2 linked regions of the Homo sapiens genome follow. The protein of the gene in region 1 purifies or fractionates together with the protein of each later gene. This does not show direct contact. Each region holds a gene or a part of one and is shown in the gene's direction. Other genes may lie near its edges.

Evidence for each region.
Region 2: the proteins of PGLYRP3 (region 1) and DHTKD1 purify together in Homo sapiens (affinity purification with mass spectrometry; 3 studies listed by BioGRID and IntAct, with this or other methods). This does not show direct contact.

The regions. Positions count from the first base shown.
Region 1 is NC_000001.11:153,309,865-153,317,579, reverse strand, and holds the start of PGLYRP3 (peptidoglycan recognition protein 3 precursor), read left to right. Parts: upstream 1-4,627; 5' UTR 4,628-4,937; intron 4,938-6,873; 5' UTR 6,874-6,914; coding exon 6,915-6,969; intron 6,970-7,715. UniProt on the Homo sapiens protein: Pattern receptor that binds to murein peptidoglycans (PGN) of Gram-positive bacteria. Has bactericidal activity towards Gram-positive bacteria. May kill Gram-positive bacteria by interfering with peptidoglycan biosynthesis.
Region 2 is NC_000010.11:12,120,650-12,123,721, forward strand, and holds the end of DHTKD1 (2-oxoadipate dehydrogenase complex component E1), read left to right. Parts: intron 1-137; coding exon 138-239; 3' UTR 240-2,572; downstream 2,573-3,072. UniProt on the Homo sapiens protein: 2-oxoadipate dehydrogenase (E1a) component of the 2-oxoadipate dehydrogenase complex (OADHC). Participates in the first step, rate limiting for the overall conversion of 2-oxoadipate (alpha-ketoadipate) to glutaryl-CoA and CO(2) catalyzed by the whole OADHC.

The DNA.
Region 1 (7,715 bases):
TTAAAAAACTCACTCAAAACCACACAACTACATGCAAACCGAACAACCTGCTCCTGAATGACTACTGGGTCAACAACGAAATGAAGGCAGAAATAAAGATGTTCTTTGAAACCAATGAGAACAAAGACACAATGTACCAGAATGTCTGGGACACATTTAAAGCAGTGTGCAGAGGGAAATTTATAGCACTAAATGACCACAAGAGAAAGCAGGAAAGATCTAAAATCGACACCCTAACATCATAATTAAAAGAACTAGAGAAGCAAGAGCAAACACATTTAAAAGCTAGCAGAAGACAAGAATAACTAAGATCAGAGCAGAACTGAAGGAGATAGGGACACAAAAAACCCTTCAAAAAATCAATGAATCCAGGAACTGGTTTTTTGAAAAGATCAACAAAATTGATAGACTGCTAGCAAGACAAAGAAGAAAAGAGAGAAGAATCAAATAGGTGCACTAAAAAATAATAAAGGGGATATCCCCACCGATCCCACAGAAATACAAACTACCATCAGAGAATACTACAAACACCTCTACGCAAATAAATTAGAAAATCTAGAAGAAATGGATAAATTCCTGGACACATACACCCTCCCAAGACTAAACCAGGAAAAAATTGAATCTCTGAATAGACCAATAACAGGTTCTGAAATTGAGGCAATAATTAATAGCCTACCAACCAAAAAAAGTCCAGAACCAGACAGATTCACAGCCAAATTCTACCAGAGGTACAAAGAGGAGCTGGTACCATTCCTTCTGAAACTATTCCAATCAATAGAAAAAGAGGGAATCCTCCATAACTCATTCTATGAGGCCAGCACCATCCTGACATCAATGTCTGGCAGAGACACAACAAAAAAGAGAATTTTAGGCCAATGTCTTTGATGAACATCAATGCGAAAATCCTCAATGAAATACTGGCAAGCCGAATCCAGCAGCACATCAAAAAGCTTATCCACCACAACGAAGTCGGCTTCATCCCTGGGATGCCAGGCTGGTTCAACATATGCAAATCAATAAATGTAATCCATCACGTAAACAGAACCAATGACAAAAACCACATGATTATCTCAATAGACGCAGAAAAGGCCTTCGACAAAATTCAACAGCCCTTCATGCTAAAAACTCTCAATAAACTAGGTATTGATGGAACGTATCTCAAAATAATAAGAGCTGCTTATGACAAGCCCACAGCCAATATCATACTGAATGGGCAAAAGCTGGAAGCATTCCCCTTGAAAACCAGCACAAGACAAGGATGCCCTCTCTCACCACTCCTATTCTACATAGTACTGGAAGTTCTGGCCAGGGCAATCATGCAAGAGAAAGAAATAAAGTGTACTCAATTAGGAAAAGAGGAAGTCAAATTGTCCCTGTTTGCAGATGACATGATTGTACATTTAGAAAACCCCTTGTCTCAGCCCAAAATCTCCTTAAGCTGATAAGCAACTTCAGCAAAGTCTCAGGATACAAAATCAATGTGAAAAAATCACAAGCATTCCTATACACCAATAAAAGACAGAGAGCCAAATCATGAGTGAACTCCCATTCACTATTGCTACAAAGGGAATAAAATACCTAGGAATCCAACTTATAAGGGATGTGAAGGACCTCTTCAAGGAGAACTACAAACCACTGCTCAATGAAATAAAAGAGGACACAAACAAATGGAAGAACATTCCATGCTCATGGATAGAAGGAATCAATATCATGAAAATGGCCATACTGCCCAAAGTAATTTATAGATTCAATGCTATCAAGCTACCACTGACTTTCTTCACAGAATTGGAGAAAACTACTTTAAAGTTCATGTGGAACCAAAAAAGAGCCCTCATAGCCAAGACAATCCTAAGCAAAATGAACAAAGCCGGAGGCATCATGCTACCTGACTTCAAACTATACTACAAGGCTACAGTAACCAAAACAGCATGGTACTTGTACCAAAACAGAGATATAGACCAATGGAACAGAACAGAGCCTTCAGAAATAACACCACACATCTACAACCATCTGATTTTTGACAAACCTGACAAAAACAAGAAATGGGGAAAGGATTCCCTATTTAATAAGTGGTGCTGGGAAAACTGGCTAGCCATATAGAAAGCTGAAACTGGATCCCTTCCTTACACCTTATACAAAAATTAAATCAGATGGATTAAAGACTTAAATGTAAGACCTAAAACCATAAAAACTCCAGAGGAAAACCTAGGCAATACCATTCAGGACATAGGCATGGGCAAATACTTTATGACTAAAATACCAAAAGCAATGGCAACAAAAGCCAAAATCGACAAATGGGATCTAATTAAACTAAAGAGCTTCTGCACAGCAAAATAAACTATCAGCAGAGTGAACAGGCAACCTACAGAATGGGAGAAAATTTTTACAATCTATCCATCTGACAAAGGGCTAATATCCAGAATCTACAAAGAACTTAAACAAATTTACAAGAAAAAACAAACAACCCCATCATAAAGTGGGCAAAGGATATGAACAGACACTTCTCAAAAGAAGACATTTATGCAGCCAAAAGACACATGAAAAAATCTTCATCATCACTGGTCATTAGAGAAATGCAAATCAAAACTACAATTAGATACCATCTCACGCCAATTAGAATAGTGATCATTAAAAAGTCAGGAAACAACAGATGCTGGAGAGGATGTGGAGAAATAGGAACACTTTTACACTGTTGGTGGGAGTGTAAATTAGTTCAACCATTGTGGAAGACAGTGTGGCAATTCCTCAAGGATCTAGAACTAGAAATACCATTTGACTGAGCCATCACATTACTGGGTATATACCCAAAGGATTATAAATCATGCTGCTATAAAGACACATGCACACATATGTTTATTGCAGCACTATTCACAATAGCAAAGACTTGGAACCAACCCAAATGTCCATCAATAATAGACTGGATAAAGAAAATGTGGCACATATACACCAAGGAATACTATGCAGCCATAAAAAAGGAAGAGTTCATGTCCTTTGTGGGGACATGGATGAAGGTCCATCCATCATTCATCCAATGATGGATGAAGGAAGCCATCATTCTCAGCAAACTATCACAAGGACAGAAAACCAAACACTGCATGTTCTCACTCATAAGTGGGAGTTGAACAATGAGAACACATGGACACAGGGAGGAGAACATCACATATTGGGGCCTGTCAGGGGGTTGGGGGCTGGGGGAGGGATAGCATTAGGAGAAATACCTAATATAATGACGAGTTGATGGGTGCAGCAAACCAACATGGCACATGTATACCTATGTAACAAACCCGCATGTTGTGCACATGTAACCCAGAACTTAAAATATAACTAAAAAAAATTATATGTGAGTGACTTCGAGTTCCTAATTATTGTGATTAAAAATTCAAAGTGCTATTTTGTTTAATAATTCAATTTACATAATTTATACAAAGTAGCTGTTTATCCTAATTGCTTTCATTAGCATTAACATATTAGCTATAACTTTTACCTGTGGAAGGAACACTTTCTCTAATTTTAATGAAAATACCATTTGGGTAACAGTGGTCTTGCTTCAGACTTTCTGACAGCTAATCCCTTGGTGTCCTTCGATCTCCAGTTGGGGACTGCAGGATCCTACCCATTTTCCTTTCCTTTTGTGGGCTGTCACTGCCCCCTTTATCACTTGGGTTTCTTCTCTTCCATGTCTGGTCTTAGAGTGAGACAGTCTCTCAGTTCTCCCTAACTTGCTGTTCTAAAGATGAGCTTATAAACCATTTTCATTTTAAGGACTTAATCATGATTGCAAAAGATCCAAAATCATAAATAAAAATTTCAGACTCATAGTGTCTGTCATTGTCACCAACTATAATTCCCGGTCCCCTTCCTAGATGTCTGTCTCTGAGGTCCTCACCCAAGATTCCCCACCCTATGGAAAATGGAGGTCACTCAGCATGTCTCCCTCAGATGCTGGCAGCCATGTGAGGCTGTGGGGTCTAGGAGAGGTCTCCTCAGCTTTTGTCCCTGAAGTGTGGTTTGGGCTGATCAGAGTATAGAACAGAGTGGGTATCCAAGTATCTTCTAAAGGGTGCATGGTACTTTCCAAGACCTCTCGCCTGAGCATTCCCCATCCAGGGGGCTGCAGCTCAGGTACCCTTGGCTGAGCCTGACTGTAAAGTCTTATGCATCAACCTCTTCAGAGAAGAGACAGGGATTCTTGGAGACCAGAGTTGAGGATTGAGGGCCACTGTCAGGAATGCGTGAGGAGGGGAGAGCCTTGGTTTGTTTCAAGGGAAGAGTTTGAAGTTGAGATGAAGTGGTGGATGAATGGGCATGATAGCTACAGGGTCAGAATAAGTTCTAGTGATGACACATTGCTAGCTGCCTCCTGGGAATGTGCTTTTCAATTTCTGTCCCTTCCTCCTGCCCCTGCTGGTGACTCCAGTGGAACCTGGAACAGATAGATCTTCATTGGTAGGAAGTTCCCAGATGTCAGGGACAGGACCCCCGGGACCCCAGTCTACAAGACATAAGGGCTGGGGATGAGGAAGGAACTCAGGGAGTGTTGGGCAATCACACCCTTTCCCAGGGAGGAGCTACCTGGGCTTATTCACAGGGCGGGTCCCCAGGTGCTCTCAGCCTGGGTCTGTTCCCACTTAAGTTTCTCTGGGTGCTGTAAACAGAGCTGGCTTGGAGCCTCAGCCCTCTGCCTTTCTCTTCTCTTCCATCTTTTGTTAGGGATCCTGGGCTCTCCTCTTCTCTCTGGGAAGCCAGAGCCCAAGTGCTCCATTCCCAGGGAGGGAGTGCCCTCTAGGGCCAGGGGGAGTGAAGGCCTGAGGAGGCACCAGCTGGAGAAGAAGGGCAGGTCCTGGAGGCCAAGTCTGGAAGGGAAGGAGCTGCTGGCCAATCAGGGGCGAGCCGACTGCACCCTGACCTGCTGGGCTGGAACAGCACAGAACCCACAGGTATCTGTGAGTTTGAGTGTGTGTGTGTGTGTGTGTGTGTATTTCTTTAGAAGTCTTCATTCAGCAATGGGACGGAAGTCTATAGGGTTAAAATGTGTACATGGTAGGGAAAGCTCCCCTGATCTCGTTTTTTGGAACTCTTTCTCCAAATAAGAAAATTTTCTTCATTCTAAATTCTTCTAAATGAGTTTGGTTTCACCACTGCTGGATCTTTCTTGGCAAGGCTGTGGGTTCTGAGGTTACCTCTACCCAATTTCTTCCTTTTCTGTAGAGCCCTAAATTCTTATCTATTATGTCTCACTTGTCTCCTGGTCTAATGTTTCTTTCAGTATACAGGATGCACAGCAATGTGAGCCAAGGTGGTAAATCCTTGGCTCTAGCTTATCCTACCAGCTTAGTGTTTGCAGTTCATGGTGTGGATTGGAGACATTATCAGTTCTGTCTCTGGCAAGGTCAGGGACTGGGCTGAAGCCTTGATATTTTGGATGTATGATATGACCAGCTTGGGGCAGGATTTGCCATACTGACGTTTCATGGTTGTGGAAGCACAGTGATTAAGTGACCAGGGTGCAAACCAGAATTGATAGTGGCTTCCAGTAGCTTTGCAGGAGGCCAGCTCCTAACAGGCCTTCAATCTTGGGAAAGTGAATCCTTACCTCTCATTTAACTAACGAGGGAGGCTGAACATTTTTCCTTATATTTATTAGGTGCCTGCCTCATTTGTAATTAGCTCATTTTGTCTTCACTGCAGTTTTCCTGAATGAATGGAATCCTGGGTGTTATCTGCTAAGTGGTTGCTTGTCCTGACCCAGGAGGCTTCCACATGTTCTACTCTTAAGACATGGTTTTAAAAATTTTCCATTTGGGGACTGCTGATTGCAGTTTAAAAACCCTGGAGGGCAATGATCTATCCCATTTGGTTTCAAACTCCACTTTATATTTTCTCAGTAGGAAAATTGGGGGGAAAGTTGATGTTTTGGGTGGTAGCTCATACAGCTAAAGTTTCAGTCTGACTGAGTATGAGTAAGCAATTCACTTCTACCTGAAAGAGCAGGAAAGATTCCTGGAGCTGGAAAAGACTATAGTGATCCTATAGTTCAACCTCTTGGGCCCACATTGAGAACGTCCATCAGAAACTCAAACAGGTTGTGAAGTTTCAGGCAGAGGCTCTGGAGTCAGACAGACCTGGGTATGAATCTGGCTCTGACCCTATTATCTGGGAAACTTAGGACAAGTGACTCAAACTCTCTGAGGCCCAGTGTTCTGATGATAAGTGCGGGTCTCATAGGTCATTGTGAGACTACTTAGTGAATATCCATGGAGTCCTCAGCAAAAACCTTGGAACACAGAATGCAGTCAGTAAGTGGTAGCTGTTATTATGATTCTCACTAAAGAAGAGGTTAGTCGAACAACTGTCAGGGATCTTTGCAGAGTAGATGACTGAATTGAATGACTTTACATACCTGGGACTCTCAAATGGTGCAGGGGGCGAAGCCAAGCCTGCTTCTGCTTGTAGTTCACTCCATCTGAGCCTCAATGTTCTTACCTATAAAAATTGAATCAAATATGAAATTGCACCACTAGATATGAAAATAAATACACAGTGTTTTTTCATAACAGCTACCTTGAGGATTTTAGAAATTGTTATTTTCTACCCTGAAAGGCCTAAGATCAGGCACTGCGCTTCTATGAGGAACCAGGAGTTGCCCAGGGCAACAGGAGGTGGGTGGGGAGTCGGTGGCTAGACATAGCCATTAGTGCCCTCACATTTATTGGGAACCTGATGTGTTTAAGGGGCCCCGAGAAGCCTGAGCCAGGTGCTGGCCCTCAGGAAGCCACAGGATGGTAGGGGAGGCAGACAGTGGTGCCACATAGTAGGTGGGTGCTCCACTTGCAGAGTTAGCATGGTTGTGTTAACTGTTAGCCTCTCTTCCAGGGCTGCCGTCCACACTCTCCCGGTCAGAGTCCTGGGACCACATGGGGACGCTGCCATGGCTTCTTGCCTTCTTCATTCTGGGTCTCCAGGCTTGGGGTAAGTTTTATTTACTTGCATCAGAAGTGCTTTTGATGAGCAAGAGAAGACCGTTCTCAAGTTTAATAATAGAAACCCATCCGAGTGCTTTCACTTTGTTAGTGGATAGTGTAGCTTTGCAATTTGGAGCCCTGTTCTAGAGTTTACAGATTTTTTTCAAATCCTTGCCTGTCCTTTGTTATGGTCTTCAACAAGTTATTCAATTTCTTGGAATCTTATTTGCTCCCATGATGAAAGGATAATATTGCTCATTTCTTAGAGTTGTTTTTGAGGATTAAATTAGATCACAAGTGTGCGCCATTTAGCACAATGCCCAAGTAGTTAGTGCTGGGTAATTTGTAGCTATGATTTAATTATTGTCACCATCGTTATTATACCAGTCATAGTTAAACCCAGCACTTGGGTCTACATTTGTAAATAAAAGCAAATTCCCCAAGAGTAGCAATGCCGTTTCTCTAGATTAAGAAGATTTCTTATCGTTATATACATAAGAGTAGACACATAGCAATGTTCATTAAATAAATGCTGTTGAATTAAAATGAAAGTGAGCTTGGTGATTCTTAAATATGACATGTTTTTCAGTTTGTTTTACATACACAGACCCCCTTCGGAAGGAAAAATGTAATATAGCTTTCTCTCTGTCCTCTGCTACTCAGACAGCAAATTTAATGGGATTACCTGGAGTTAGTGTTAGAGAAACTCACAGGCCTTTCATTGTATGAATGGAGAAGCTGAGGCCCTGATGG
Region 2 (3,072 bases), on another chromosome or scaffold:
CTGCGTAACTCATTATTTGAAAGAGGTGATTTATGGTTAAACAAGCTAAGAGAAATACATGCACTGTCTTGTTGGAACTAAGCAGAGCTCTGATCTAGTCAAAATGTCATTTTATTTCTTCTCTGCTGCACTTATAGCTCCGTCTGGTGGGCCGGCCCCCTTTGCCAGTACCCGCTGTAGGAATTGGCACAGTTCACTTGCACCAGCATGAAGATATCCTCGCCAAGACCTTCGCTTGATGATGACTTTTGAAGAAACACTATTTCTCTTTAAGAAAATGGCCATTAAGGCCGGGTGGGGTGGCACATGCCTGTAATCCCAGCACTTTGGGAGGCCAAGGCTGGTGGATCACCTGAGGTCAGGAGTTCGAGACCAGCCTGGCCAACACGGTGAAACCCCGCCTCTACTAAAAATACAAAAAATAGCCGGGTGTGGTGGTGGGCACCTGTGATCCCAGCTTCCTGGGAGGCTGAGGCAAGAGAATCGCTTGAATCTGGGAGGCGGAGGTTGCAGTGAGCCAGGATCACACCATTGCTGTCCAGCCTGGGTGACAGAGCAAGACTGCGTTTCAAAAAAAAAAAAAAAAAAACCCATTAAAAGAGGCCTCCTTCCTCCACTCTCTCAACCCCTCTGTTGGGTAACATGAAAAGACTGTATTCCTCTAAGATGTTGGGATTGATATACGTGATTTAATCTGCAATAGGTGGAATAACCAGGGGAACTGGTTATGAATATGTGAATGCAACCAGCAAATTTATCCTTGAAGGTGTGATGGTAGAAATAGGAAAACAACAAAAGAAAAACAATAACAAAAAAAGAAAGTGTGATGGCTGGGTGCAGTGGCTCACGCCTGTAATCCCAGCACTTTGGGAGGCTTAGGCGGCTGGATCACCTGAGGTCAGGAGTTCAAGACCAGCCTGGTCAACGTGGTGAAACGCCGTTTCTACTAAAAATATGAAAATTAGTTGGGTGTGGTGGCATGCGCTTGTAGTCTCAGCTACTCCGGAGGCTGAGGCAGGAGAATTGCTTGAACCTGGAAGGCAGAGGTTGCAGTGAGCCGAAATGGCGCCACTGTACTCCAACCTGGGCGACAGAGCAAGACTCCATCTCATAAATTAAAAGGAAAGTATGATAGTGTTATGGATTTTAGCTCTGAGTGAGCTGGAAAACTAGGTCATTATCTAGATGATTTCAGACTTGACCCTAATTGACCATATATGACCAGGAAACACTTCTGAGTTTACAGCTCCGTGGAGATGACCTCAACACTGCCTCTTGATTTGTTTGATGCATGTCACTTTCATTAATTTTCCCCCTCCTTTTTGAAAGTCCTGTGGCAGTACTAATATTTTCATTTTATGTAATCTCTGGTGCTGCTTTCCAGTCACTGTATGAAGTGTCTCCCCAACACTAGCAAATCTAGGTCCTACTAAATACAAATCTCTGGGTGGATGATCTTCTAGTACTGTATTTTTAAATTAAGGAGTTTTAGTTATAATGAAATTGATTTGTAGTCTGTTTTGCCGTAAACTTGTTTTTCTTTAAATTGTTCTTACAGTGATATCTTACTATTTTTAACTGTCTGGGGTTTCTGATATGGGGATTTCAGCCCCTGGTTAATCAGTCTTGTCCCTACAAGTCCCTGATGCAGTATGTTTATTTGTGATGTTTAAAGAACATTTCTTGGCTGGGCGCTGCGGCTTGCGCCTGTAATCTCAGCACTTTGGGAGGCTGAGATGGGTGGATCACCTGAGGTTGGGAGTTCGAGACCAGCCTGACAAAACATAGTGAAACCCCGTCTCTACTAAAAATACAAAAATTAGCTGGGCGTGGTGGTGGGTGTCTGTAATCCCAGCTATTCGGGAGGCTGAGGCAGGAGAATCGCTTGAACCCAGGAGGTGGAGGTTGCAGTGAGCTGAGATCCTGCCACTGCACTCCAGTCTGGGTGACAGAGCAAGACTCCATCTCAAAAAATAAATAAATAGAAAGAGAGAGAGAGGAAAAAAAAAGAAAAGAACACTTCTTTATTTGAGGGACTTTCCCAACACCAGGTGCTTGGGGATTTCTTAGAGATCACCAACCGACTCCCTCACTGTGAAATTAAACCAAGTACTGGAAACGTAACTAAACAGCGAACCATGTAGCTTCACCTGACTCAGTGCTGGGGGCCTCTACCATCTACTGTGCTTGTGTCATGATGCTTTTTCTCTGAAGTGGTGTGGGAAGTACCAGGGGACTGGCAGAAGCCCAGGCCCTCTCTACTTTTACCAGCAACTGATCATGTCTTTCAGAATCCATGTACATATAGGCTGTTCTAGCCACAGTGGTAGATTTATGATTCACATCCGAAAGTGTGCCTTAGTTATCAATTTAACATTTCTCTAGTATTCATATCCCTTTTCTTACCATATACCTCAGTGTATCCTTCCTGTGTCAAGCCTTATAAATCATGTAATTTAGTGCCACTCATGTAAATCAGTAAAATCACAAAGGTCTATTTAATGAAAACGATTTACCAATGTTGTTTTTTTTTAACAAGAAAAAAAATAAAAGCACATTGTCATTTTTTTTCCTCAGGACTCCTGGACTTCTTGAATTAAAAGATTTCAAAAGTCTAAGCACAAAAATGAGATGGAAGATTAGATCTTTGTAAAAGGTTAGTTTAGGCTGGGCGTGGTAGCTCACGCCTGTAATCACAGCACTGTGGGAGGTCAAGATGGGTGCATCACCTGAGGTCAGGCATTCGAGACTAGCCTGGCCAACATGGCTAAACCCCGTCTCTTACTAAAAATATAAAAATTAGCAGGGCATGGTGGTGCATGCCTGTAATCCCAGCTACTTGGGAGGCTGAGGCAGGAGAATCACTTGATCTCGGGAGGCGGAGGTTGCAGTGAGCCGAGATTGCACCACTGTACTCCAGCCTGGGTGACAGAGCGGGACTCTGTCTCAAAAAATAAAAGGTTACTTTAAATCTCTCCGAATTTCTTTTGAGACAGAGTCTCACTTTGTCGCCCAGGCTGGAGTGGTGCGATCTCAGCTCACTGCAACCTCCACCTCCTGGGTTCAAAAGAT